6 separate regions of the Homo sapiens genome follow, and regions 1, 2, 4, 5 and 6 are each linked to region 3. The links come from fine-mapping of genetic effects on gene expression. A gene starts in region 3. Each other region holds a variant in brackets. All regions are shown on one strand. Distances are between the middles of the regions. Region 1 has its middle 57 kb from the start of KY. Region 2 has its middle 18 kb from the start of MIR4788. Region 3 holds the start of EPHB1 (EPH receptor B1). Region 4 overlaps EPHB1 (EPH receptor B1). Region 5 overlaps EPHB1 (EPH receptor B1). Region 6 overlaps EPHB1 (EPH receptor B1).

Evidence for each region. PIP is the estimated chance that this variant, and not a neighbour inherited with it, causes the effect. A credible set is the group of variants that fine-mapping cannot tell apart.
Region 1: its variant is the best candidate, but not a certain one, in a credible set for the expression of EPHB1 in whole blood (TOPMed, PIP 0.59).
Region 2: its variant is the best candidate, but not a certain one, in a credible set for the expression of EPHB1 in whole blood (TOPMed, PIP 0.68).
Region 4: its variant is the best candidate, but not a certain one, in a credible set for the expression of EPHB1 in prefrontal cortex (ROSMAP, PIP 0.59).
Region 5: its variant is the best candidate, but not a certain one, in a credible set for the expression of EPHB1 in skeletal muscle (FUSION, PIP 0.82).
Region 6: its variant is the best candidate, but not a certain one, in a credible set for the expression of EPHB1 in testis (GTEx, PIP 0.68).

Annotation. Positions count from the first base shown.
Region 1 is chr3:134,591,813-134,596,860 of GRCh38, forward strand. It overlaps a transcript of CEP63 not described here. Among named protein-coding and RNA genes, the nearest start is that of KY, 57 kb to the right of the region's middle. The variant G/T (reference allele first, on the strand shown) is at 2,950.
Region 2 is chr3:134,452,851-134,457,898 of GRCh38, forward strand. No RefSeq gene overlaps it. Among named protein-coding and RNA genes, the nearest start is that of MIR4788, 18 kb to the left of the region's middle. The variant T/A (reference allele first, on the strand shown) is at 2,682.
Region 3 is chr3:134,793,045-134,797,044 of GRCh38, forward strand. EPHB1 (EPH receptor B1) reads left to right here and starts at 2,216. Exons shown (of 16, transcript NM_004441.5): 1 at 2,216-2,645. The coding sequence starts at 2,588. RefSeq lists enhancers at 1,732-1,941, 2,003-2,297, 2,342-2,391, 2,402-2,591.
Region 4 is chr3:134,898,261-134,902,260 of GRCh38, forward strand. All of the region lies in intron 1 of EPHB1 (EPH receptor B1), which reads left to right. Among named protein-coding and RNA genes, the nearest start is that of EPHB1, 110 kb to the left of the region's middle. The variant A/T (reference allele first, on the strand shown) is at 1,742.
Region 5 is chr3:135,207,498-135,211,497 of GRCh38, forward strand. All of the region lies in intron 12 of EPHB1 (EPH receptor B1), which reads left to right. Among named protein-coding and RNA genes, the nearest start is that of EPHB1, 410 kb to the left of the region's middle. The variant G/A (reference allele first, on the strand shown) is at 2,378.
Region 6 is chr3:135,163,719-135,167,718 of GRCh38, forward strand. It overlaps EPHB1 (EPH receptor B1), which reads left to right. Exons shown (of 16, transcript NM_004441.5): 8 at 2,250-2,358; 9 at 3,224-3,288. Among named protein-coding and RNA genes, the nearest start is that of EPHB1, 370 kb to the left of the region's middle. The variant C/T (reference allele first, on the strand shown) is at 1,644.

The sequences.
Region 1 (5,048 bases), 200 kb before region 3:
AGAGGTTGCAGTGAGCTGAGATCATGCCACTACACTTTAGCTTGGGCAACAGAGCCAGAGCCAGACCCTGTCCCCCCAAAAAATAAAATAAAATAAAACCAGACTGAGATACTAAAATGCTCTATTAGCTATCTACGGCTGTGTAACAAATTACCCCCAGATTTAGCAGCTTCAAATAATAAGTTTTCTGTGACCTTACAATTTTTCAGGGTCAGGAATTTAGGAATGGCTAAAGTGGGTGGTTTTGGCTCTGGGTCTTTCATGAGGTTCCAGTCAAGAAGCTCACCAGGGCTGCAAAATCCTCACAGGAGCTGCTTCCAAGATAGCTCACTCACATGGCTGTTGGCAGGAGGACTCACTCAGTTCCTCAAAATGTGGGCCTCTCCAGAGGCTGCTCGAGCATCTTTACAACTAGCAGCTGGCTTTGCTGAGAGCAAGTGATCTGGAGAGAATAAGGAGGAGGCTATAATGCCTTTTATATCCTAGTTTTGAGTGTCACACACCATCATTTCTGCGACATTCTATTTGTCAGAAGAGAGTCACTAAGTATGGCCTGCACATAAAAGGATGGGAATTAGGCTCTTCCTTTTGAATGTAGGAGCACCAAAGAATTCATGGACATTTTTTCAAACAACCACAAATGCCATCTGCAAACTGGTGTGTGTGTGTGTGTGTGTGTGTGTGTGTGTGTGTGTGTGTGTGTATGGAGGAACTGACTGACTGGCTTCCCAAAGATGGGCAAATGGGGTGCTGGTCTTTTCACTGGGGTGGTGGTTACAGATGGTACCTGTAGGCCTTTTTTCTTAGGTTGATCTGTTTTCTCAGTGATACCCTCCAGTTTTTGCTTTGAGGACAAAAGTCAGCCAGCCAGGTTTGGGGAGTTAAATAACATCAGGGTTTGAGGTGGTCTCACCATTCAGTATGCAGATTGTATTTTTGAAAACAATTCATTAATTTTTTTAACTATTAATTTTCTTCATGTGGTTTCGTATGTTGATTTACAGCTCTCTCGAGTGGAAGGTTTTCTTTTTCTTTTCATCTGCTCTTTTGGCTCCCTTCCGTGTCTGAGTATATTGCAGTTGCTCCTACCTAGTCCCCGGAACCCTCAGACTAGAGCCAGGCTTTGTACTGGTGATTCCGGGCTCCCACTACATGGTTGTCCCATCATATAATAGACAACTCACTGAGCCCAGTGGGTGGATTGGCTCAGCTGCCCTAATTTAAGGCAGTTTTGTATAGGTAAGGCCTTAACATAGGTGTCCAGTAATGGACAGCTGCCTCATGGAGTGGAGAGCTCCTGGTCCCTGGAAGGATTCTAGGAAAGACTGGGTGATTGCGTCTTGGATATGGGATTTCTGCATTGAAATCAGTGATTGCCACAATTTTATGAGGGGCTTGAGACTTTTGGATTCCTTAGGGAACAATACATCAGTGTCATCCTCATTATGCTGATGATGACTGATGCATCGTGATGGTAGCCAATAATTACTGAGTACTTACTATGTGCCCGGGACTTTTCTAGTCATTGTACCATATGTTAGCTCATTTAATCCCCATAAGAAGTGTACACAGTAGGTGCTATGAGTATCCCTGTTTTACTGATGAGGAAACAAAAACAGGGAGGTTCAGTAACTTGCACAAATCAGCTGGGAGCTGGCAGAACTGGGGTTAGGAATCAGGCGGTCAGCTCCAGGTGTGTGCTCTTAGCTGGCACACTCTCCTACCTGCTGTCAAACAGGGGCTGAGCCACAGGCTTCCCCAGGCTCATGACTGCCAACGCTGAGGAGGAGGAGGGGTCCACAGGGCTTCTCCAAGTGAAATCAATGTGTATAGAGGAAAACTCGAGGCTTCAATCACACATTAATGGCTCCTGACCACACAAGACAGATTTCAGTCTAACAGGGGACCAGTGGCTAAGAGGCCATCTTTCCAGAGGAAGCCCATTCACTTCTTTTAAAGATAGACTTTAACACTCTTGTTGAGCTTTAAAAATGTCAAGTGAAGCTTTCACTGCCAGAGTGGATGCCCTCCCACAATCAGGTTAACGTGTTCTCTCCACTGTGTTGCTCCTGGGAGATGGAGAAGGGGATCTGATACTCATGAAATGAATGCCAAAAGGTTCATGGTACCCACACTTGCCCAGTCCCTAGGGTGGGGCTATCCCAAAGGGCATAGGAGGAGGGGACAGCCTTCAAGTGCTGCCAGTATCTTGGCTTCATTTAACTTTTTAAATAGAATAAAATGGTGGATGTTAATTTCCAGATCTCCTTGGTGTTCACATACATTCAAATACAAATATAAATATGAGCAAAGTGTTCACTAGGAAATCTGTAATCCCACCGTCATTTTGTTCTAAATAAACGCTTCCTCATTTTTCCTCACCACCATCCTTTACCCAGATGGGAGCTGCCAGGGGCTCCCCACTCCTAATATCTGCACTTCGTCAGTCATTCAGCCCAGCTGTTCTTGTGTACTCACAGTTGTGGCTGCCCCTCTGCCCTCATGCCACCAGCCTCTCCATAGCTGCCCCTGCCACCATAAAGGGGGACGTCACTGCCTTGGTCCCTGCACAGCCAGGGCGAAATGATGGCTGATTCGTTGTGTCACAGAGGCAGTCAGCCATTCCCCCTGATAGAAACAAAGCAATCTCGGCACATGCTCAGGGCGGGCGGATTCCCCCGAGAAGAACGGCACTCCTCCCATTGATTGGTTGCCCATGCACTGATTGTTTCCCAGAGGCAAACACCATGAGCACTCCCAGCCAGGTGGCAATTTTTCTCCTCTTGTAAATATACATTTCCCACAGGGGCAAAGGAGTACACTGCTGTGCATATGCTTTCCTAGTTGAGCAAAAGAAGGAAATGACTATTTAGGATGTTGTAACTCAACAGCTGTTTTGGTCAACAGCCATGTAAACAACCCAGAGATCTATCATTTTGTTTTTGAAAT[G/T]ACAAGGCAATGTTCACTTCAAAAATTTACTGATCACTTATTCTAAATGCAAGGCACTGTTTAATCATGGAGATAAAAGAGCAAACACACTCAGCCTAGGCTCCTTCTCCCTAGAGTTGATATGCCTGTGTGCATTTGTGTCCTCTGAGCTGGGTGGCATGCATGTTGCGTGGAATCCTCCTGGAGCTCAGGTGAGGTCAGGAGGCCCCCAGCACATCCTGGGACCTTTGGTTTGAAAGCTGACTGGTTGTCAGTCCATGGGCTAGCTTAATGGGAAGCCAGTGCTCCCCACTGGTCTGAATAGCCTCTGATATGGTTTGGCTGTGTCCCCAACCAAATGTCATCTTGAATTGTAGTTTCCATAATCTCCACGTGTCATGGGAGGGACCAAGTGGGAGGTAATTTAATCATGGGGGTGGTTACTCTCATGCTGTTCTCGTGATAGTGAGTGAGTTCTCACAAGATCTGATGATTTTATAAGGGGTGTTTCCCCCTTTTGCTCAGCACTTTTCCTTGCTGCCGCCATGAGAAGAAGTATGTGTTTTCTTCCCCTTCTGACATGATTGTTAAGTTTCCTGAGGCCTCCCCAGCCATGCTGAACTGTGAGTCAATTAAATCTTTTTCCTTTATAAATTACCCAGTCTCGGGTATGTCTTTATTAGCAGTGTGAGAACGGACTAAACAGTCTCCTTCATTATTTTGGTCTGAGCCCTGATTTAGCTACCTTTAAGCTGGGATTGGCAAATACATGGCACACCTCACCCTTCAATCCATTGTCTATGGATCACTAGCTAGTCATGACACTCTTTCCTAGTGAACCCAGTTGTGGCCTCAGAATCTGTCTAAACCCAGTACCCCTGGCAATGATGACTAAACATCTAGAGTGCTGGTTTAATTGGAGAGAGGGAATCTCTTGGTGGGCCCTGTCTAGGTGGCCTTCTCATTCTCAATCCTTCATGGCTTGGCTTTGCCACTGGATACACTGGATACCACTGGATACCACTTCGTGGTGCTTTGTCTTTTTTACACTTCATCCTGCAGGGGCTCCTCTTCAGAGGATCAGCCTTGAGGACAACTGTGCTCAAAGAAACCATGAGTTTGAGTGTTCCCTGGAGCATTACTTTCCAATATATCAACGGTCTTCAAGACAGCCCCACATACTCAGGCTTTGCTGTAGAAGATGTTAATGCCTTTAGATCCTAAATAGCTATATTTGCCATTTTGCAGCTCTTTCCCGAGAAAACAGGTTCTTCTGGGGCTTTAGAAGCTTTCCCGTGGAAAGGTTTGTTTGTTGGTCTCTGGGTGGGTGGGTGGGAATGGGATCAGCAGGTGCCCTCAGCTAAATTTTTATGTCACTCTGGGTTAAATAGAAGCATCAAGCTTAGGTTATATAATCTTCAAACAGGGCCATGGGGAAAATTTGGAGCGGGAACAAATCTAGATAAAGGAAAGAAAATTCCATTAAAACTGTTCACAGCCAAAGAATGCCTGACAACCCTCTGCTACCCACCTTTACAGGCAGGGTGGCCATCCTTCTCTAGTCAAGACCAAGTCCTACTTTCAGGACTTGTTCTATCTTCCAAGTAGTCAGTATGTGTCCTCTTTTAGATGCTGGACTTGGTAAAGGGCCTCTTCCTTTGAAGACCACTGTTAGCTGCATCCTCAGCCTCCTCCAGGGTGGTTACTTCACCCCACATTCCCAGCCCTCCCCAGGATGTGGCCCTCCTCTGAGAGAATCTTGGGTTCCCCTCCTCAATGTCCAGTATGTGGCATACAGAGTTGGGCAAAAACACAAGGGCTAGACCTGGTGAAATGGGAACATGCTTTGACAAATGCTCAGTGGATGGTTATGGACTGCTAGGCAGTAGTACTTTCCTGGCCCTGTCTTCCTAGTCTGTCTTAGTTTTCCCAGTGAAACACTTGCCAAGCGTTTACCAAACACCTACTGTGTGCCGAGGAGCAGAACCAAAGCATATATATTCAAGGAATTCACATCCTAGGGGCAGAACCTCCAAGTACTTCCTGAATCCCAGAATCTTGTAGAAGGTTCTGGGTTAACAGATGAGCAACAAAGTGTGACATGAACATGGAAGATAGGC
Region 2 (5,048 bases), 340 kb before region 3:
TTCATTCCTGCCAAGCTTCTGGCTGGTCCCTTCCATAATATTTCATTATCATGGTGGCTGAGTGGTTTTGCACTCATCCAAACACCTCCCACCAGGTCTCTCCTCCAACACTGGTTTTGCACTTGGCATTCCACCACAGCTACAGAATCCCCATTTAAACAGTTCATGTTATATGAGAGAGAAGTGTTTAGGCCTTTTCTCTTCGCAGTGTTATCTCTGACTTCCACGTTAACTCTCTTGCTAAACAGCAGGGGGCTATAGATCAAGTCGGATTCAAAAAACTACACCAAAACTTCTCATTGGTTAAACCAGGGTTTTGCAGAGTTTTATAGCACCTCCACTTATTTTCCCTAGTGATGTTTTTCTTCTCTTACTTTTTGTTAACTGTTTGTGTCAAAAGAGTCATTTGAAATTCATGCTTCCCACCCAGTGAATGAATCTCAGTGCCAATGTCCTTGTCAGGTGGTTGTTCATCCTTGGCTGGGGAGTTCATCTCCTTCTGAAGAAGGCGGTTCCTTTGTTGAACAACTTTAGTTATTAGAAAACTCATCTACCTATTGAATTTATCTTCCAGTAACATTCATTAGCATGATATTTGAGGAGAGTTAGCTTGTAGTCTTAGAGTCTTCTCTTCCCCAGGATAACATCACCTCAGCTGTTCTCCCTGGTGAACTTTCCAGATCCTCAGAAGCCCTCAGATACACTTATATCCATTAGGATATTCTCATTAAGAAATGACTGAAAATCCAAATCAAATTGGTTTAAGTCAACAGGGGAACTTAAGGGCTCATCTAAATGAAAAGTCCATGCGCCAGGACAGTCAAAGTTCAGAGGCTGGTTCTCCCAGTCTTTGGCTCAGCCTTCCTTTGTGTTGGGTTCATTCTAGCCTCCCACTTGGTTGTCCCCAGAGCACGAGGCTCACATCAGAGTTTAAACGCGATGCTCTGATTGGCCAGTCCAGACTACATTCCCGTGGTAGAGCAGGGGGAAGGGAACAACTGCTTCAGGAACAGAGTGGTACTGAGCATGAAGGAGAGGGGGTCCTCTGGAGGAGAAATGGGGTATAGCTAGCTGGAGATAAAAGTGAATAGGGGATAAAACAACAGCACTTCAACTGAGCCACAGATTTAAAAGTAACCAATATTTCCCACTTCGGCAGCTTGGGTACAATTAAGATCATATTTCTTCATGCAGTATTCCAATGGAAGACTTCAAGTCTCCAATCCCAACTCATCTTTTCCTCCTTCCTGGGGTCTACCCTGCTGGGATAAACCAAGAAGTGTCCAGGCTGTTAACTTGTGTTTACTGTGTTTCATCTTTGGTAGAAACACTGCATGGTGTTTGGGGTGAAAGCAGAACTCAGACCTATTCCAGAAGCCAGAGATCAAGCATCACATCTGATGCTTCTGAGATGTATGAAGTTTCCATGCTGTTGCTGTTGCTGCTTCTGTTGCCACTCTCACCACAGAAGGGTGTCACACCACTGGTCACATTTAAAAACTTGACCAGCTGAGACTGAGCCTTCTGTTCAGGGGGCTGCCTATGGCAGCGGCAGGGGTTCCTCTGGTTAGGATGGAGGTGGATTTTCCACTCCTCTCCTTCCCCACGTCCTGGTGCAATTCAGCCAATGGTGTCCTTAACAAAGTACGGCCATATCTGGCTTCCAAGCATGTGCATAAACAAGTCTTTAATGTTTGAAGGCTTTTGAGGATGATGAAGAATTACTACTCTTGCACCCTGTTTAGTGATTCATTAATGTTCCAAATTTATCAAATAATTAGCATTCCATTAACTTTAAATATTTCTCAACATGTTCACACAATATTCACACAATTATAAATTGAAATGTCTTTATTTGATTAAAAGCTTCCAATTGATTGCAAATTATTAATCTTCTAGATATTTATCATATTCTAAAATCCATTATATCAGATTTTCTTAAAAGCTTCAAATACTTTTAAAAACAACCCAAATATCACAGTGATTATAACACTAATTATTAAACTTATGTTGAAACCATTTATTAAAGTGCTAGTACCTAGATTTATTTATTTTATCTGCTTGTATCTTTATTCTTTCTTTTATTCTAATTTCTCATTTAAGTTCTTTTCCTAGGATTTCCACCCCCAAAGGAAAAAAACAATCGCTCATTTAGAGTAGCCAAGATTGTGGGATGTGAGCTGTAAATTCTTGAGTAGGACCAGGAACTTGTACCTTAAATCCCAGTCTCCGGGGGTCAGGCTGAGGCTGAAGCCCTTTGATAATTTAGCTTAATTTTTAGTTCCCTGGAATTGGTGCAGATTTTAATTTTCGGAAGGGAGATGTCTTTCCAGAAATGATTGACCCCTAAGGTTTGCACACTGGCTTCCTGACCCTCTGCCCTGCCACTGTGGTTCTTGGGCTTGGTTAGGATCCCTGCAGGTGTAACTTTATGAGTAGCTTGAAGTCGAGTCGGGCCAGTCAGCATCATCTTCGGGACATTTGATTCCTTTGTTATCTTGGAACCCACACTTGACTTCTTTGTAACTGGCTACTGTGAGTGACCACCCTGGCTGGCCAATTTTGGGCCTCCTCCCACGAGGCTCTGTCTGTGGCCTCTGGTACCAGTCAGCGGGTCTTGTTCTTGGAACAGCAACTTACTTTTCTGGCTTTCCTTGGCTTAGTCACAATTTCTGTTTTTT[T/A]AAAAAATTTACACTTGAAGAACTTATTTTTACTTTATAAATATCTGTTTAACAGAAGAAATAAAATAACCCTATGTATGTGTACATAGGTGTGTGGATATGTGTATGTGTGTATATAGGTATGCACACAAAGTCTCTCTCTTTCATGTCTTCTAAAATTACTTTAAAAATAATCTATTGTATCATATTCATTGCATATTCATTGTTTTTTTTTTTATTTTAACCAGGTCATTTGTAGTCTCAATATTAACTTTTTCTTGAGTATTATTGTCCTCTGGCTTTTCATAAGCCCGAACTGTTTGAACCAGTTACATTTATGATTCCCCATTTGATGCTCAGTGTCCCAGCTCAGCCTGTGGGAGGCCCTACAAGCCAGCTCCTTGTTCTATCAGCACTGCCTCAAATATCCCAGAAAACATCCTTACCTTCTGGCAACAACTAGAGGATGTTCCAAACCCTCCCCGATTTTTCCTTATTTTTAGGGACCAAAACATAGGCACTCTGAATGCACAGGGGAGTCGGGGGAGAACAAAATCATGTCTGTTGTTTCATTTTTGGAAAAAGAAATTAATTTTTTTTTTAAGGAATGTGTTTGTCCTGGCTTTCTCAGTGTAACATGTCACGGTACCTGCTTTTCATGGTTGGTGTTCTCTTTCATAGTCTGGTCTCAGGAGCCACTCCAGCTTTTCCTACCTTCACAAGATATAGCTCCTTCGATTCACTCTGCCAGCCTCTCCACCACCTAGAAAGGCTGGGCCAGGACGTGCTCCAGCACCTCTTATACCATAAACCTCTAACCCTTTTCCTCTTTGGTCATTTAACTCAGCACAGCATCCCTGCCAGAGGTCCCATCCCTACCTACCTACACTTGTGGCAGTTTTGTTTTGGGAAGTTCACTATATCTCTCAGTTCTGCTTCATTAGAAACCCGCCTCATAGAAATATCATCCTTTATTTATTGTTAGAAAAACAATGTATTTATTGAAGGTAGTTTAGGAAAGTCATTAAGTTACAGTGAAAAAAATAAGAATTAGGCTGGGTGTGGTGGCTCACGTATGTAATCCTAACACTTTGGGAGGCTGAGGCAGGCAAATTGCTTTGGGCTCACAAGTTCGAGACCAGCATGGGCAACATGGCAAAACCCCATCTCTTCTAAAAATACAAAAAAATTAGCCAGCTGTGGTGGCGCACCCCGTGAGGTGGGAGGATGGTTTGAGCTTGGGAGGTGGAGGTGGCAGTGAGCCATGATCGCGACACTGCACTCTAGCCTAGGTGATGGAGCCAGACCCTGTCTCAAAAAAAAAAAAAAAAAAAATACTACTACTACTACTAAGAAGAATTAACTACGTCTCTAGCTTCTCTTTGCAGACTGCCTGAAACAAAGGAGGTTTTTAGGAAATTCAGCTTCATACCTGGTGAGATGTTATTTATTTCACAGTGTTAACAGAGGTTACAACTGGGGAATGGCCATGGAAGTGAGAGGAGAAACTTTAATTTTTACTTTTTATACTCATGCATGATTGGAATTTCTAATCCAACACTTACTGCCTTTGTAATCATACATACAATTTGAAGTGCTTCAAATAATAAAAAATAAGTCACCCATGGCTAACATTGCTAATACTTTTTGCACCTCCTTCTAGTCTTTTTCTCTCTCAGGCATATATTTTTATTAGCAACCTTTGAACCGTAATCCATATTTAATTTTCCCCCCTACTTTTTATTTTAATTTAACATGATGTAGCAAGCACTTTCTCAGGTTATCAATTATTCTTGGGAAACATAGGACTTACAATAGTTGCCTGATATTCTATCATGAGGATTTATTAGGTTATCCTCCTACTGTTGGCAAACAATTGTTTTTAATTTGGGAAGTACATGAAAAATCACCCATTTAAGATTCTCACTTTCCAGATGAGAAAACTGCAGTCCAGTGAAGCTAGTCATTTGTCCAAGCATGGCCAGTCGATCCGAGACTTGCTGGGATGGGATCTGGCACTCCTGAAGCCTTGGCCTCAGCCTCCTGAGCCTCCGCAGGGCGCTTCTGGAACCTAACTGTAGGGCACTGCCTACATTCTTTCTAAATTACATTTTGCAATTTGGGACACATTATTCCTGCCTGTCAAGATCATTTTTTATCTTCTGTCATAGAACCATTAGCTAATGAGGGACAGTATAGCCAACATCAGAAATTACAGCTTTTTTCTCTATCAAGATGTGCTTCCTAAATCATCTCTATGCCAAGGAAGGGGAAATACTGTCATAGCTCTGATCAGATAATTCCAATAGTCACCAGCAATTACAGGGAAGGGTGCTAATTAGCAGATCTCAGGCTGTGTTTCTCAGGGATCCCCTGGGTTCTGACATT
Region 3 (4,000 bases):
TGAATGTCATGCTAGAGTGGTCAGTCTCTCTTCAGCAGACAGTGAGGAGCCACTAGGTTGCTATGCAGGGAAGAGACAAGATCAAGGTTGGCTTGAGAAGGATGAGTTTGGCAGCAGAGTTTGGAGGGATTAAGGGGAGGGAGGGAAGCTGGACTGTCATTCAGAGACTCTCCAGTTGTCCAGGGGAAGGTAGTATGGGTTTACACTGGGTCAGATGCACAGGCATAGGACAAGGGCATAAGGAGGAGGACATGGCAGAGCCGGGGCTTTGCCAGACATGCCTACCAAGTGACTGTGATATAGTGAAAGGGGGAGGGAAGAGTGTGAAACTCACCCATCCATCCATCCACCTGTCCATCCATGAGGGGATGGCTGGGGGTAAAAAAGCAAGTGAAGCTGCCAAGGAGTTGCCCATGTACCCCAGGAGGACGAACTCCAAGGATGGAGTTTGGGGGATACCTCTCTTGAAAGCTGAAGAGGTAACAGAGGGAACAGTAAGAAGTGGCAAGACGGGTAGGAGGAGAAGCAGGACCATGGAAACTGGGGCCAGAGCCCCAAAAGATCTACTGGACACCAATGTCAGCAGGTGCTGACGGTGCAGGAGGATGACAGCTAACTAGGAGCAGGTTGTTGCCCAGGGTGACATCAGGTGGCTCCAGGGACATCACGACACAGCTGGTGGTGTGGAGGCGTAGAGGGCAGCTAACATGGCATTAAGGTGGATGATGAGAAGGTGGAGGTTGATGACATCTTCCCTTCAGGCACAGAGGTGGGGTAGGAGGGAGGGGAGGGGAGGAGGAAGGCAGCCTGAGTCAGAGCCAGGGAAGGAAAGAATTGTCAGGATTGGGGGACTTGAGTCTGGCTGTGGTGGAGAGGAAGAAGTCCCAGCAAAGGAGAGACTAGACACGCAGAGGTGGGGGGTGTGGGGAACTGATTTAGAAAAGCCCAGAAAGGAGAGTCATCCCAAAGGGAAATATCGCATCTGCCCACTGTTAGCTCATTAACAGACCAGGGGAAAGGATTGGTGCCTCCAAGGTGAGAGGCGTAGGAGGAGGGGTGGGGAACCTAACGGGTCATCCCTGACCCTGTAGGACCAGACTATCATCAGGTATGTAGGGGGGGCGGGAGAGGAGGGAAGGACACATCTCCAGCATAACATATAACAGCCTCAAGGTGAGTTTCTGATTTAGAACCCTTGACCATCTCCAGAAACAGGAAGATAAAGTGTAGCTGTGAGAGCTGAGCCTGGGAGAATTGCTCCTATCTCCAAGGCTGCATCCCCAGTTGCTGCCTAAGTCCTTCCCACCCACACTGAAGGCCTGGCCCACAGCAACAGTGCACCTCGCCTTGCACCGGCCTGGGAGAGCCCTCTTGCAGGCTTTGCTGTTTTATAGCTGACTGTGTGACTCCTGGTCTCCCCACGCTGAGCTGTCCTCTGGGGTCAGGGCCCTCTGTGGAAGTTCACAATGCACTGGGAAGTGAACACCAAAGGCAACCAGAGGCTTCTGCAGAAAAAGAACTGCGAAACGTTGGACAGGAAGCAAATCCGGTTCCCTGTGGACCCTGGAGCAAGTGCCCACAGGTTATCTGAACAGTATTCATTCTTTCGACGGACATGTACTATGCCTCCCGCAGGCCAGGCACTGTTCTGTGAACTGTGGATTCTGTAGTGAACAAAATAGACAAGAATCCGAAAATGGTGACCCCATTTTAATGAGGGAGAGACCCCACGATAAACAAAATCGATTAGTAAATACCAACCCATGCTAGAGAGTGAAGAGCTCTGGAGGAGAGGCACGGGTGCGCCCCTGGAGTTGCTCTAAACAGGGTAGGCAGGGTGCTCTTGTCACAGAGAAGATGAACGAAGGCTCGTTTGATCATTTAAAGCGGATCCAGTCCTGGGTGGGATGTAAGGGCACGAGGCCTCCCCAGCTCCTTCGCTGGGCACCCTATGGGGGGACAGGGTGAGTTGGGCGGGCCGCTGCGGTTCTCCGAGAGCACCACGAGGGGGAGCCCGGACCCCTCCTAGCGCCTTCCGAGCCCTCCCGCACAGCCTTGCAAGCAAAAGTTTTTCTTAAACTAACAATGCCAGTGTAAGGAGGTGCTCGCGCCTGATTGGCCGGGGGAATTTTGCAGGTTTGATTCCTTGATTGGACAGGAGGTGTTAGGGGTGGGGAGAGAGCTGATGGTGGGGGATCCCGCTCCCTCCCGCGTCAGTCTGGCCGGCTCCGTCCTCCCGTAGGCTCCGCTGTAGCTAGCAATGTGACACCAGGACGCACTCGCTCTCGCGCGCTCTCCCAGGCTCGTTCTCCCTCGCCCTCTCTCTCTCACACACGCACGCACACACCCACCTCTCCCATAAACACACACACACACATGCACACCCACACCCACGCGCGCCCGCACCGCCCCACGCGCACACACTCCTGCCCACGCCCACGCAGCGCTCCGGGAAGTCCGGTCCGGGCGAGAGCGCGAAAGGATACCGAGAAGCCACCCGCGGAGAGCGCAGCGGCGCCCTGGGACGCGGCGCTCTCCCGGCGCTGCTGCCTCGGCTTGGTCTCGGCCTGCGGGCCGTCGGCCGGCGATGGCCCTGGATTATCTACTACTGCTCCTCCTGGCATCCGCAGTGGCTGCGATGGAAGGTAACGTACCCTCCACGGAGCAAGTTGGCTGCTGGTGCCGGCCGCCTTGGGACTGCTGTGCTCCGCGGTTCGCGGGGTTCCTCTGGCTGCTTTGCGGTGCAGGCATCCCGGGACCCGAGGGCAAGGAGGTTTGGGAGCCTCGGCCGCTGCCGAGCGCGGGGCTTGGGCGGCACCCACCAGAGCGCCCCCGGCTGGCTCTTAGCGCCCGAAACTGGCTCGCGAGTCCCCCGGCTTCCTCGCCCCGGCACTCCCTGGTAGCCTCGGTCTCCCGCAGCCCCCGCTCGGAGAGCTCGGAGCCCGCTGCATTGCGGTGCATGCTCCTTAGCTCTGGGGCAGAGCCAGAGCTGGGCGTTGGGGAGAAAGGGGTGCCTCTGGCCATCCGGCTCCTGGAGTACTGGCGCCCGTCTGCTCCCAGGCACGGATACGCTTCTGAGCAGCCGCGCGCCACCTCCTTTTCTCCAGCTCGCAGTCCACGGGCTAGTGGACTCTGCTTGGCGTGCAAGCACTGCGCGCGGGGGCCGGAGAAGCTCTGCCGTGGTATCCCGCAAGTGGCCGCCGAAGGAGAGGGGTGGAGTTCATTGGCCGTACCCTTGGGGACCAGTCTGGTGGTCCGGGCGCCTGCGGGACTGCAGGTTTCCAGGGTCAGTCGGGGAGAGGTGGAAACCCTTTTCGCCTCTTGAGCCTTGGAACAGGAGTGGGCTGGGGTGAGTGGTCGGTCCTACCTAAAGTCTCCCAGCCTCTCCACCACCCCGGAGAGGATACTCGGCGGCCGGGAGTCGTCGGGCAGCGTCACTCTCTGCCAGCTCAGACTTGGCGGTGCCTCCGGCTTGGTGGCTGGGAAAGCGCGCTCCAAAGACACCGTGCCCGGCGCAGCGGGGAGCCTGGGCGCTCGGTAGCGCTCGCGAATCCCTGTGGGAAATCCCGGCCCAGCTCCCCGCCTCCCGCCCCTTCCCCCGCCTCTGTTCTTCGCAGCCTAGCAGCGGCCGCGGCAGCCTCCTGGGAACACAGCTCCGCGGGAGAGCGGAGTTGGAGTTGTCGGGAGAAAACCAACTCTAGGGGTGATGCGCTGCCGCAGTCCGGCTAGCAGCCCCACTTTCCGGTGTCCTGCTCCGGATGGAACTCCTCTGGGGGACTCCAAGCCGGGGAGGAGCAGCTCTTGGCGACCGCGCAGCGTTCCCATCTGGGAGCTCGCTCCGCTTGTTACTCGTTCCTCGCGAAACTGTGACCGGTTGCCCAGTGGAAACTCCCCCAAACACGATGGTTTGGTGCCCCCCGCCATTCCGGAAAGCTCTGCCCTTCTGGAAGTGAAGCTGGAGGGGCATTCCGGGCCCTGAGGCGCGGCTAAGATTCCCTTC
Region 4 (4,000 bases), 110 kb after region 3:
ATAAATGGATGTCATTAACAGTCCCATTTTCAGATGAAAAAAAATCACTTGATCATGATGACACCAAGTGCTGCTCATGGCAGGATGGGGCTGAGAAGCTGAGTGTGTAGGATTTCCAGCCCAGTCTCCACTGACTCCTCTTCATCTAAAGGAGGAGAGCCTGACCTCCTTTTTCTGACCCTGTCATCTAAAATCCAAGCCCTATCGAATGGCACTGATTCAGCTTCTCTCTGTACTTGGTGGCAGGCCAACCCCCATGCTCCCAACTCCCTGGAGACTCCAGACAAGTGACGGTAGAGTCTGCACGCTAGCAGGTGATACAGGGCTTCGGCACAATCTGTAGTCTGGAAGCAATTTTGTGTTTTCTAGGCACCCATCTGTGAGAGGAGAGCAATGTCTGTACAGGGTCTGTTTGCTTATGGAGGAAACAACTGCTGCTCAGGAGTGGGAATGTCTGCCCTGTCACGTGTGTCATTTCGTTTTCAAGCAGAGGAGTTCCAGGGATCCTCAGGACATGGATCCAGCCTTCAGGGGAGCTCAGCTTTCAGGCCTTGGGAAGCACCTTGACATTTTCCTTCCACATTGGAATGAAGTTTGTGCAGTGCTGGGTGTGCTGTGGACCAGCCTGGAGCTCAGGCCTACCCTGGAACTCTGACTCTAGGCAGTCTTCAGAAGACCTCTGCAGCCTCCACTTGGAGGGCAGGGAGTGGGGGTGGAGGGCACTGTCGGGGAGGCATGGTCTGGAGGATGTCATGTGTCAGTTCTTGATTGTCTCCCAATAGATGAGGAAAACATCCCTACTTATCACTTTCTATTTTCTTATTTTCCCAGTGTGCTGGACTGTGGGGTGGAGGAGGAGACATGGATTCATGGGCTTTTCACACCATTTGAGGGTTGACAGGGCAATTCCCAGGAGTAGTTAGGAACAGAAAAGACACCTTAGACCCCTGATGCATGAAGTTCATCATCATCATCATCTTTACCATCCTTCTCAGCTGCAGGGCTTCAGGGATTGTGGAGTGTTTTTGCTAGCTCTTCTAGGTAGGGAGTGAGATTGGTCCTGAGATTGGCCTGCGATGTTCCTTTACTCTCCTCATTGCACAAAGATTCTACACTGGGCAGCTTGTTGACCCCCCAAAACACCCAGATCTTGCATGCTTCAGTGCCTTCGCCCTGCTGTTTCTTCTGCCTAGAATGACCTTCCATGCTTCTTTGACTAGCACATTCCTACTCAAGCGCTAAGCCTCAACTCAAGCTCCCTCATTTCTCCTTCACTTCCCAAAAGGCAGAATAAATATCTTTCTAAATATAGTGTTTATCACATCCTAAAGTTGATATCTTCCTTATTTTCAACCACTCAAAACACACTCTTAGACTTGAAGCTTCTGTTTTTGTTTGTTTGTTTTGTTTTGTTTTGTTTGTTTTATTTGGAAGAGACAGGGTCTCACTCTGTCACCAGGCTTGACTGCAATGGCATGATCATAGCTCACTGCAGCCTTGAACTCCTGGGCTCAAGCCATCCTCCTGCTTCAGCCTCCCAAATATCTGGGACTACAGGCACATGCTACCATGCCTGGAGGAGCTTCTCCAGGAAAAGGGCTTTCCAGGTGGGGGCACAGCAAGGGTATAACAGAGAGTCATGACTATACCTGGTGAGTTTGCAAGGTAGTAGACTGATGGACCCAGAGATTTGTTCCAGGCTGGGAGTTGTAGGACATGGACTATGGAGGTCATTGTGTCT[A/T]TGGTGATTAAACCACTGTAGGAGAATGGACTTTGGGGCTAGATAAGACTCTGGTTAGAAGCGGGCTCTGGTTGCAGTATATACTGAGGCTTTGGATTCTTGAGCCTTGGTTTCTCCTTCTATAGAAATGTGACAATAGGGCCTGTCTCATAGGCTGCTGGGGAGTCATGGCAGGCAAAGGCCACAGTTGTGCTCAGACATGATGACTGTCATGGAGATTGTTCTGGCTGAGAAGCCATGGCCCTTGGAAGCAGGAATCTTACCTTTTACATCTTTAGGTCTCCTAGTGGTCCCAGCAAAGTGCCTGTGCTTGCTGGCTGCTCATTTTTTATTTTTATTTTTTTTGTAGTAGTAATAGCTGAATAGAGATAACCTAAAAAGGATTTGGAACCAGGAATAAATAGAATAAAATGGTAGTCAAGGAATAAGACTGGTGGTGTGTGGGTAGGGCAGCTTAGAGGGTGGGTGGAGAGGTAGAATCTTGGTCCTGAGAAATCAGGATATTTTAAGTACACATCTAAAATAACATGGACTTCAGGCCTCCAGGATGTCATGACTCCTCTTCCTCCTGCCCTCCTGCCTGGGTTAACGGGGCCCAGTGAGGAGGTAGACCTGGCAGAGAGATGGGAAAAAGCATGTGAGGACATAAGAGCAAGTGTGTGTGGTGTGCATTTGTGTGTGGCCATGGGTGTATGTAGGTGTGAGGAGGACCTGGGTGCATGTGTGTGTGTGAGCACAGGTGTATGTAGGTGTGAGGGGGCATGGGTGTGTACATGGTGTGCATTTGTGTGTTGGTACAGGTGGATGTAGTTGTGAGAGGCACATGGGTGTGTGTTGGAGGGTGTTGTGTGCATACATTGTGTTGGAAGGTCTCAATGGACCAACAGACACATTTATGTCCTCACATAGCATACAGTTGCATGGGGAAGAATGATGTTAATGAAATTGTTAGTTGCAAATGTGGTGACTGGTCTGATGAAAAATTAGGGGACTCTAAGAATTCATACAGTACCTAATTTAATTCACACTTGGGGCTTGGGATGTGGAACTTCTTTTTAAAAAAAAAACTTTTTAAATCTTATTATAATTTTATTGAGCATAGTTTAAATATTTTTACATTAATATGTACATATTTTCTTTCTTTAACATAACCACAATATTATTATCACATCTAAAATAATTAACACTAATTCTTTAGTGTTATCAAATACCCAGTCAGTGTTTAGATTTTCCTGTGTGTCTCATAAAAGTTTTACAGTTGGTTTATTTAAATCAGGATCTAAACAAAATCTACACGTAACACTTGGTTGATTTGTCTCTTAAAAGACTCCTTAGGCTCCTTCGCCCTTCTTATTTTTTCTTATTTTTCATTTAATTTATTTGTTGGATAAACCAGGCTACATGTCCTATAGCATTTCCCAGGGTCTGGGTTTTGCTGATTGTATCCCCATGGTGTTGTTTCCTGGTTCCTTGGTTCCCTGGACATCCTGCAAACTGAGAGTTACACCTGGAGGCTTGGGCAGGTTTGGGCCCAGTTTGGTTTCCCCACAGGCTTCTCACCTGCTGGCTTGGCAGCCACTGGTGGCCCATATGGGAAAGGCATCTCACTGAGTGCAGCCTCTAAGCTACAGCCAGCAGGGCAAGAAGAGTCATCCAGGGGAAAGGAATGGTGGCGTTCAAGGCAAAGGAAGCCATGGGTGCAGCTTGGGCATGAGAGAGGATGGGGGTGGAACTGAGGGCAATTCTGGGGAGCTGTGTGGGTGGCCAGGGAGAACTGCAGGAGGCAGAGACAGAGCAAAGCTGTAGAAATGTGGACTACTCCCTCAGCCTCTGTATCTTCATCTGTCAAGTGAACGCAGTACCTGTAACTACCTCTTAAAGGGGTTGTGGATGTTAAAAGAGTGGATGTGACATATTCAGCACCAGTGACTGGCCAATAGGAAAGGAGCAATACTTGTTATTTGTGATGCTGATGACAGTGACAATGTGGAGGAGGAGGGAAAGGGAGCTTGTACTTTTCTCTGAGATCCATGGGCAGCTATTGAAAGCTTTTGCATAAGGGACAGATATAATCAAATTTGCATTTATAGAAGTCCGACCTGTCTGTGAGATGAAGAGTGAATTTGGGAGGTGCAAGAAAGGGGGCGAGACAGTAGTTAGGGGCTGATGCAGGTGCCTAGGAGAGAGGGGGCTGTGGCTGTATGGGAGCAATGTCAGTGGATATAGAGATAGATGGAATTATTGGGAGATATTCAGAGA
Region 5 (4,000 bases), 410 kb after region 3:
TGAGGACTGGGGACATTAATCAAACACATGCCCAAATGAGTGCATAATTACCAGCTGAAATAAGGGCCGCTATGTTTTGCGAGAGCATGCATAAAACAATAAATAACAAAATTGCCTAACTGTGTCTAGGAGGGCTTGCAGAGGAAGAGATGGTGCTACAGCAGAGACTTAAAGAACAGTCACTGTTTTAGTCAGCCTGGGCTCCCATAGCAAGCTACCACACCCTGGATGGCTTAAACAGCGGTCATTTATTTCTTGTCATCTGTAGGCTTGGGAGTCCAAGATCAAGGTGCTAACTAGGGATGGTTGGATTCTTATTGAGGGCTCTATTCCTGGTTATGTCCTCAGATGCCTTTTGTTGGCATGTGCACAGAAAGAGAGATCTTGCCTCTTCCTCTTTTGAAAGCACATCAATCCCATCTTGGGGACTCCACCTTCATGACATAAACTAACTGCAGTCACCTCCCAGAGGCTCCACCTTCAAATATCACCCAATTGGGGATTATTAGGACTTAAACATATGAATTTGGGGGACACATAAACATTCAATCTACAGCATTCTGCCCCAACTAAATGTGGCAGGTCGGACTTCAGAGGCAGAGAGGCAGCATATACAAAGGCCCTGTGGCAAGAGGGAAGATGGAGTGGAACTGAGAAGGGACCCCTGTTTAGGGCATTTGGAGATTTAGGGAGGAAGCATCCAAGGAGGCCTGTAGCAGTCCATCATGTAGGATCTTCCCCAAACGCTGTGATAGGAGTTGCAGCCTTAGAGCAATGGGAAACCTTTCATGACGTGTGTGTGTGTGTGTGTGTGTGTGTGTGTGTGTGTGTGTGTGTGTGTGTTGTGCACACAGAGAGATGCACACGTGTGGCCCGAAAGTGATGGATTTGAATTTTAGAAAAATAGCCTGGCTTTTCCTTAGCCTTTTCCTTCCAATATCTTTCCTTGCCTTCTTTAGAAATAACTTTCTTGGATTTCTTCCTGTTTTCTTTCACCAAAAAGCCATTAAGCAGACTCAACCAGGGTAGATGTTCTAAACAAGGGAGGCAAGCCCTAGCAGAGATCAGGACCCATGTGTGAATGGGCTGCTGGCTCAGCAAGATTGAGAGACAAGCTATATACAGGGAGATTTAAAAATAAATTTGAAATAATGGAAACTGTGGGAACAGAGGTATAAATATGGAAAGCATAAAAGCTAGAATGAATTGTATGCTGTGGAATCAAAATTGGAGGTATTAGTGTGAACCGGTGGTTTTAAATATATAGAAATGGAGAAATAAATATAGGCTGAGAGTGGCTTTGAAGCAGTAACATCTACATAGCAAGGAGTACAGCTGGCTCTCAGATCTTGGATTCCATATACTCCCCTAAAAGCAACCAGGACTCATTAGAGACATGGCCCCTTCCAAGGCCTGGAGAGGGAAAATGTGAGATGAGACCAACACATCTTTTTTTTGTGCCAGAAAATGAGAAAGTACTCAAAGAATAATGGGAACATACAACAAAAACAACATCCAGCTTGAAGGGCCTCCAAATCTGGATAATTTGAGCCTCACAATATATAATAATAGTAACAAGTTATAATCTACTGAATAAGATGGGGGCTATTGAGTCCACACTAATATGCATATAAATGAACAAATAGAAACAAGAGAAAGCTCTTCCCTGTAGAGGAAAGAATGATGATGTTAGAAACTCACTATTTGGCAACCATCAGATTAATAGCTAATTCAGATAAGAAACATAAATGGATGCTTAAACTTAAGGTGAACATCAGGAGAGAAACAGGATTTTACATATCTTCAAAGTTTCTCCCCCCAAAATATTTATTTATTACAAAGAGGGAGAAAGTAACTTTACAGAGAAGTTTGGCAAATGCCATCTGAATCAAGTGATTAAAGTCAACATCAGCAATAATAGGACAGGTAAATATTCTGTGCAACTTAGAGGATGCAATGAAAAGAACATAATACTTGCAATACTCTGTTCAAAATTTATAACTTGGGTCTCATCATGAGAAAACATCAGACTACCTAAAACTGAGGTACATTCTATTGAATGTGTGGCCTATGCGCTTCAAAAAATGTTAGGGTCGTGAAAGTCAAGGAGACAGAGAAACTGCTCCAGATTGAGGGGCATGATACTGGGTATACCATGTGATCCTTAACAGGACATCTCTAGGACAATTGTTGGGCTGGAATAGGGTGCCTAAGGGAAGAGTGTACAGGCATTCATTGTAGTATTCTTGCAACTTTTATAGATATTTGAAGTTGTCTCAAAATAAAATATATATATTTTTAAATTTACCTTGACTGCAGCATGGAGGATGGGTGGGAGAGGCACTAGTAGAGACAGGAAGATGCATCAGGAGGCTAC[G/A]GGGCAATGGGCCTGGGATGCAGCAAATGAATCCCAGAAGTTCTAGTGGGGTGATGCAGAAGGACTTGACAGCAGATGCCACTTACAGGTGAAAGTGACAGATGGCGGAGGATGACTCCAAGTATCCAGCCTGTGCCTCTGGATGGGTGATGGCTCCATTCTCTGAGAGTGAGGATGCTGGAGAGAAATTGGTTGAAGGAGTAGAAGAGTTGGGAATAGATTGTGGGTTTGGTTCAGAATAGTTATTCTCAAATTCTCAATTCTCAAATTCTCAAATGTTGTTGAGTATCAGATTTACCTGGAGAGTTAATACAGAGCACAGAGGCACAGACTCATTGAAGTAGAATAGTCTGGACCTTTTCATTGTTACTAAAATTTTCCATATGATTTTGATACTTAGAAAATTCTGAGAGACACTTGTTTAAACATTTTGACTTTTATATGTCTATAGGATATCACAGTAGAGCTGCTGAATAGGGAGCTGAATATGTGGGTTTGGGGCATAGAGGAGAAGTCCAAATGAAGATGCACATTTAGGAGTCATCGTTGGCATACAAACAGAAACAAAACAGTGCGTGCAAATGTACTTCATTTGGGAAAGGATAGAATGGGAAAAGAGCCTGGTTCTGGACATGAAGGAGCCCAGTTTGCCAATACAGATGTACATAAGATAGGAACAGTAGCTGTCCAATTGTCCCTTCCTCCTGACAGTCAATTAAGAAATAAGAATTTGCCATAAACCCAACCTCCTCACTTTTGGATGAGGAATCCACAGCCCAGAGTGGTCAAGTGAGTTACTCAAGCCACACAGCGTGCTATTGCAGCGGCAGCTTTGGCCCTTCCATCTCGTTCTCCAGACTCTGAGTCCAATGCTCAGGACACTGTGATTCCCTCTCTGGCCCCACAGTGTGCCAGACTCCCTGCTCAACTTTGGTCATTTGTGATGTTCTAGAAAGCCTGTTTCTCTGGCTTTACTTTTCCCTCTTTTCCTCTCAAAGGCCCAGCAAAGGATTCTCTGTAGAGTCCAAATCAGCCGTCATCTTTGCCACTGGCTCTACTGGCCCTTGGATGAGGCACAGAGACGCGGTGGTATTGCATCCCTCTCCACCCCATGTACAGGCAGAGATGGGCAGACACTTAACTTTTACTTATTCTTGATTTTCAGCTTTACTTCTTTGCATTTACTTTTTTCATAGTTACTCTAGAACTAACATAATAATATGTAACATATGCATATATAATATATACGTCTTAATTTTTCCTAGTCTACTTTGAGTTCATATTGTACCACTTTACATAAAATGTAGAGACCACATAATCATATCATATAGATCCATTTAACCATCCACTCCCACTGCTCTTTATGTTATCATTGTTATATATGTTCCATCTACATACATTTATAGTCCCAAAGACAATGTTACAATTTTTGCTTTAAACAGCCATGTGTATTTTAAAGAAATCAAGAGGAAAATGTTTTACATTGCCTCAAAATAGTTATCATTTCTCTTGTTCTTCCTTTATTCCTGAAGATCCAGGTTTCCCTCTGGCATCATTCCTTCAGTCTGAAGAACTACCTTTAACATTTTTTGTAGTGCAGGTCTCTGGCAATGCATTTCTTAG
Region 6 (4,000 bases), 370 kb after region 3:
CAAGAAGGCTGTTTCTTTTACATTTGGCAGTTAAGTTTTGCAAACCCAAGAGGGGCTGGTTGTAAGAGAGTTCTGGTAAGTGGCCAAATTTGGGAGTATTTGTCTTACGACTGAGGTTCACACATGGGTACGGATTATGTTCACTGGGGCAGCAGGCCTGTCTGCAGAGCGAAGGTAGTCAGAAGGTTGATCGATGATAGGGTCATTGGGGCAGGGAGGACCTGTGGAATCCTGCCCAGAGTCAATGGCCACACTTTGGGCTGGTAACCTCCACATAGGGCAGACCCACTATGGCCCTGGGCTGCTCTTAGCTACACTGTTCTGATTTTTGACGTAGCTGCCTAATTTTTAAAAAATCATTCAAGTTTCATATTACATTATGAAGTTTTTAATTTATAAAGACATTGTTAAGGATGCTTCATTGGGGTTCCCTGTGTATTTTTCTATCGCCAACTTTATGTTTTAAATACATATATTACAGAAAGTCTCAGCTGAGGGCAACTGAAAATTTTCCTTCAGTCTTTAAAATTGACTTCCGTCTTTAAAATTCTAGAGAATGGGAGGCTTCAAGAACCAATATCCTTGTTCTTAGAAATCTTTCTCCTCCAACATGGTTGAAGGACAGTTCTCAAACATTGGGGAACATTAGAATCACCTGGACTGTTTGTTAAATATGCAGATACCCTGCTCTTCACCCAGAGGATCTGATTCAGTAGATCTGAGGAGGGGTCTGGAAACAGTCATGTTTAACAGTCGGGCTCAGGTAATTCTGATAGCTCATGGGAAACCTCACTTTAAGAAGTATTGTCAGTGGGCATGGTGGCTCACACCTCTAATCCCAGCACTTTGGGAGGCCGAGACAGGTGGATCACTTGAGGTTAGGAGTTCAAGACCAGCCTGGCCAACATGGTAAAACCCCATCTCTACTAAAAATACAAAAAGTAGCCGGGTGTGGTGGCATGTGCCTGTAATCCCAGCTACTCGGGAGGCTGAGACATTAGAATTGCTTGAACTCGGGAGGCGGAGGTTACAGTGAGCCAAGATTGTGCCACTGCACTCCACCCTGGGTGACAGAGCAAGACTGTCTCAAAAAAAAAAAAAAAAAAAAAAAGAAGTATTGTCATTAGGGTTGCTAGATAAAAAATAAGATGAACAGTTAAATTTGAATTTCAGACAAACAAAAATTATGTTTTAGTGTAAGTATCTCCCAAGCAATATTTGAGGCATACTTATACTAAAACCTTTTTCATTATTTATCAGAAATTCAAATGTGATTGGCAGTCCTACATTCGTATTTGCTATAGCTGGCAACTCTAATTGTAATAGAACATAAATAGCTTGACTTCTCTATGCCTAGGTCCTGAACATTAGGTAATAGTTCTTTAACACCAGTGAAAGCATAACCAGGACAATACCAATACTAGCCAGCTGGCCCAAATTATTTGTATAGATTAAAGAAAAGAGATTTGGTATTTAGGACACCTATGATAGAGCAGACAGGGTGAAATGTGCTTCATATGATTTGATTTTTTTCAACAGACAGGAAGTGTGAGGGTCAGAAGGACTAAATCGTGTGTCCAGTATCACAAAGCTTGCACATGGTAACGCCAGGGTTTAGATGAGTTCTGTCTGCCTCTATGACC[C/T]GTAGGCTTCCCATTCCACTGCATAATTCAGCATGGTTCTAACATTTGGCAGAAGCCTTGATCATTTTCTTCTTGAGCGGGAACTCAGAGTGCTGGGCCATTCATTTCTCAGGCATTTCTTTGTCCTCCACAGTGCCTGGAGGTAGTGCTGGCTGACTGCGGATACTCTTTAAGTATCTGCTCAATGAATCTATTGACTCTGTGCCATTTCATAACTTCATGCTTTAGAAGATATTTCAGCAGTGGTTTTCATTTAGATAAGTCCCCTTCATTGGAATGTCCTTAACATGGCTGACAGTTCTTCGAGAGACCTTCCAATTGAGGGAATGTAGATTGGAAATCATCTCTGCTCCAGGAATGTCATCAGCTATAGTTCCCAGATTCTGTCACGGCTGTTTTGTTTTCATTGTCCTTTGTTTTTGGTTGTTTTTGTTTATTTATAACTTAAAAATTGCTGTTTGTTTTGGTTAGACTTACAACTCTGACACATAGAAACTATCCTCTACATATATGTATATTTAGATCATGTTTTTGGTATTGTGCACTGAGTATCAGCTGTATGCAAAAGGCACATGGGGAGGATTCTAATGCCTCTTTCTCACCTAGATGATTACAAGTCAGAGCTGAGGGAGCAGCTGCCCCTGATTGCTGGCTCGGCAGCGGCCGGGGTCGTGTTCGTTGTGTCCTTGGTGGCCATCTCTATCGTCTGTAGCAGGTAGGTCCTCCACTCTCACTTGCTCTCCTTGGACCCAGGAAGCCCCTCTCCATGTGCCGTTTCCCAGGCTGCGTGGATCAGATAGGGTGTGACCATTCACGACCACAATCATCACTCCATCTCAATCCAAGAGCAGCCTAGAATTCTTTAGATATTTATTTAGCTGGGAAAAAATTCATATGAGAGCTGGGCAAGGCTATGAGTAAACAGCATCCATCCTCAAACCTCATTTTAACGAAGACTTTTAGCCCCCTCTTACACACAATGGCTTTTCAGAGTGACAGTTGCAAAATTGCATTTGACTCACTGGAGCATCCAGCCTGTGCATAACCCATCCTCCAGTTAAGAGAGCTCAGGCTCTCAGCAGCCAGCAAGAGGGAGGCAGGCTGGCAGGAGAGAAGATGAGGAGGAAAGGGAAACTCTGAGTTCTGCAGAAAAGCTGGCCCCGAAAGCCTTGTGATTTTTTAATACTGCTGCTACTGCCTTCAGTGGTTAGCCCAGATTCTGTCACGCAAAGCCCTGTAGTTGGCTCCCTCCCAAGCAGTTCTGCAATGTAGCTTAAGTGCTGATGGACATCCTCTTCACCTCTGCCCCCATCAGCACTGCCCTCTGAATGGGGTCCCACAGTCCCGCCAGGCTTCTGCAAGACCTTGGCTGGAAAGCAGAACCATCTGCCCACAGGAGTGAGTGGTGGTCAACAAGAGCTCTAACTGCAGCAGGAGGGCTGAAGTGAGAGTTGCCCAGTCCCTAATCCTGGGAGATGCCCCGGGTGAGCCCCTATCTGGCCTGGGGCCTAGATGGAGGTACCTGGAACAGACTGGTGGGTGTGCCCTGTGGCTGAGAGAGCCCCTCTTTTTATCCACAGGAAACGGGCTTATAGCAAAGAGGCTGTGTACAGCGATAAGCTCCAGCATTACAGCACAGGCCGAGGTAAGTAGAAAGCAGAGACCCGGTGTCTGACCCCCACAGGCCACTGAGTCAAGTGGGCTAGTGCTCAGAGCTCTCTTTATAGCCAGACTGGCTGGTCCCAGTGGCAAGTTCTCTCTCAGCCCCCAGTGCCTTGGCCACCTTTCTGCAGGTCCCCAGGGGCAACAGGCTACCCTCCCATCTGCCGTCTACCTGTCATGGGTACTCATTGGATGCCTGGTGGGTAGATTATTGTCTGCACTGATAAGCCCATATAGGACACAAAATGCAGGGAAAAGATTGGGTTTAGCAAGTCAATGAATCCTCAAATCAGACTCAGTGGGAAAAGATGGAGTTCTCTATTAACATCTTCTGCCTTATCTTATCCAATTGAGCAGCTGGGGAATTTGTTAACCAAATTCACAGATAAGCCATAGAACATGAAGGTAGGGAATTAAAAAGATAGCAGAGCCCAAGAGGCCAAAGTGCTGGGATATCTCCCAAGTGTTTTCCTTTAAGCAGTACCTTTAAAAGTTTTTCTCACTCATTATCCTCTCTCTTTTATAAACCTATATTTATAATATTTTTATAACTAAAATTTCTTTTCACCAAGGTGCAACATAAAGTTCCCTGTCACACTCATTTTCTCATCTGTATAATGACAACATTGCAGGATCTGAGAAAGGTCTCTCTAGGTCATTTGGGCCACCTTCCTGCCTCCAGAAAGCAGAATTCT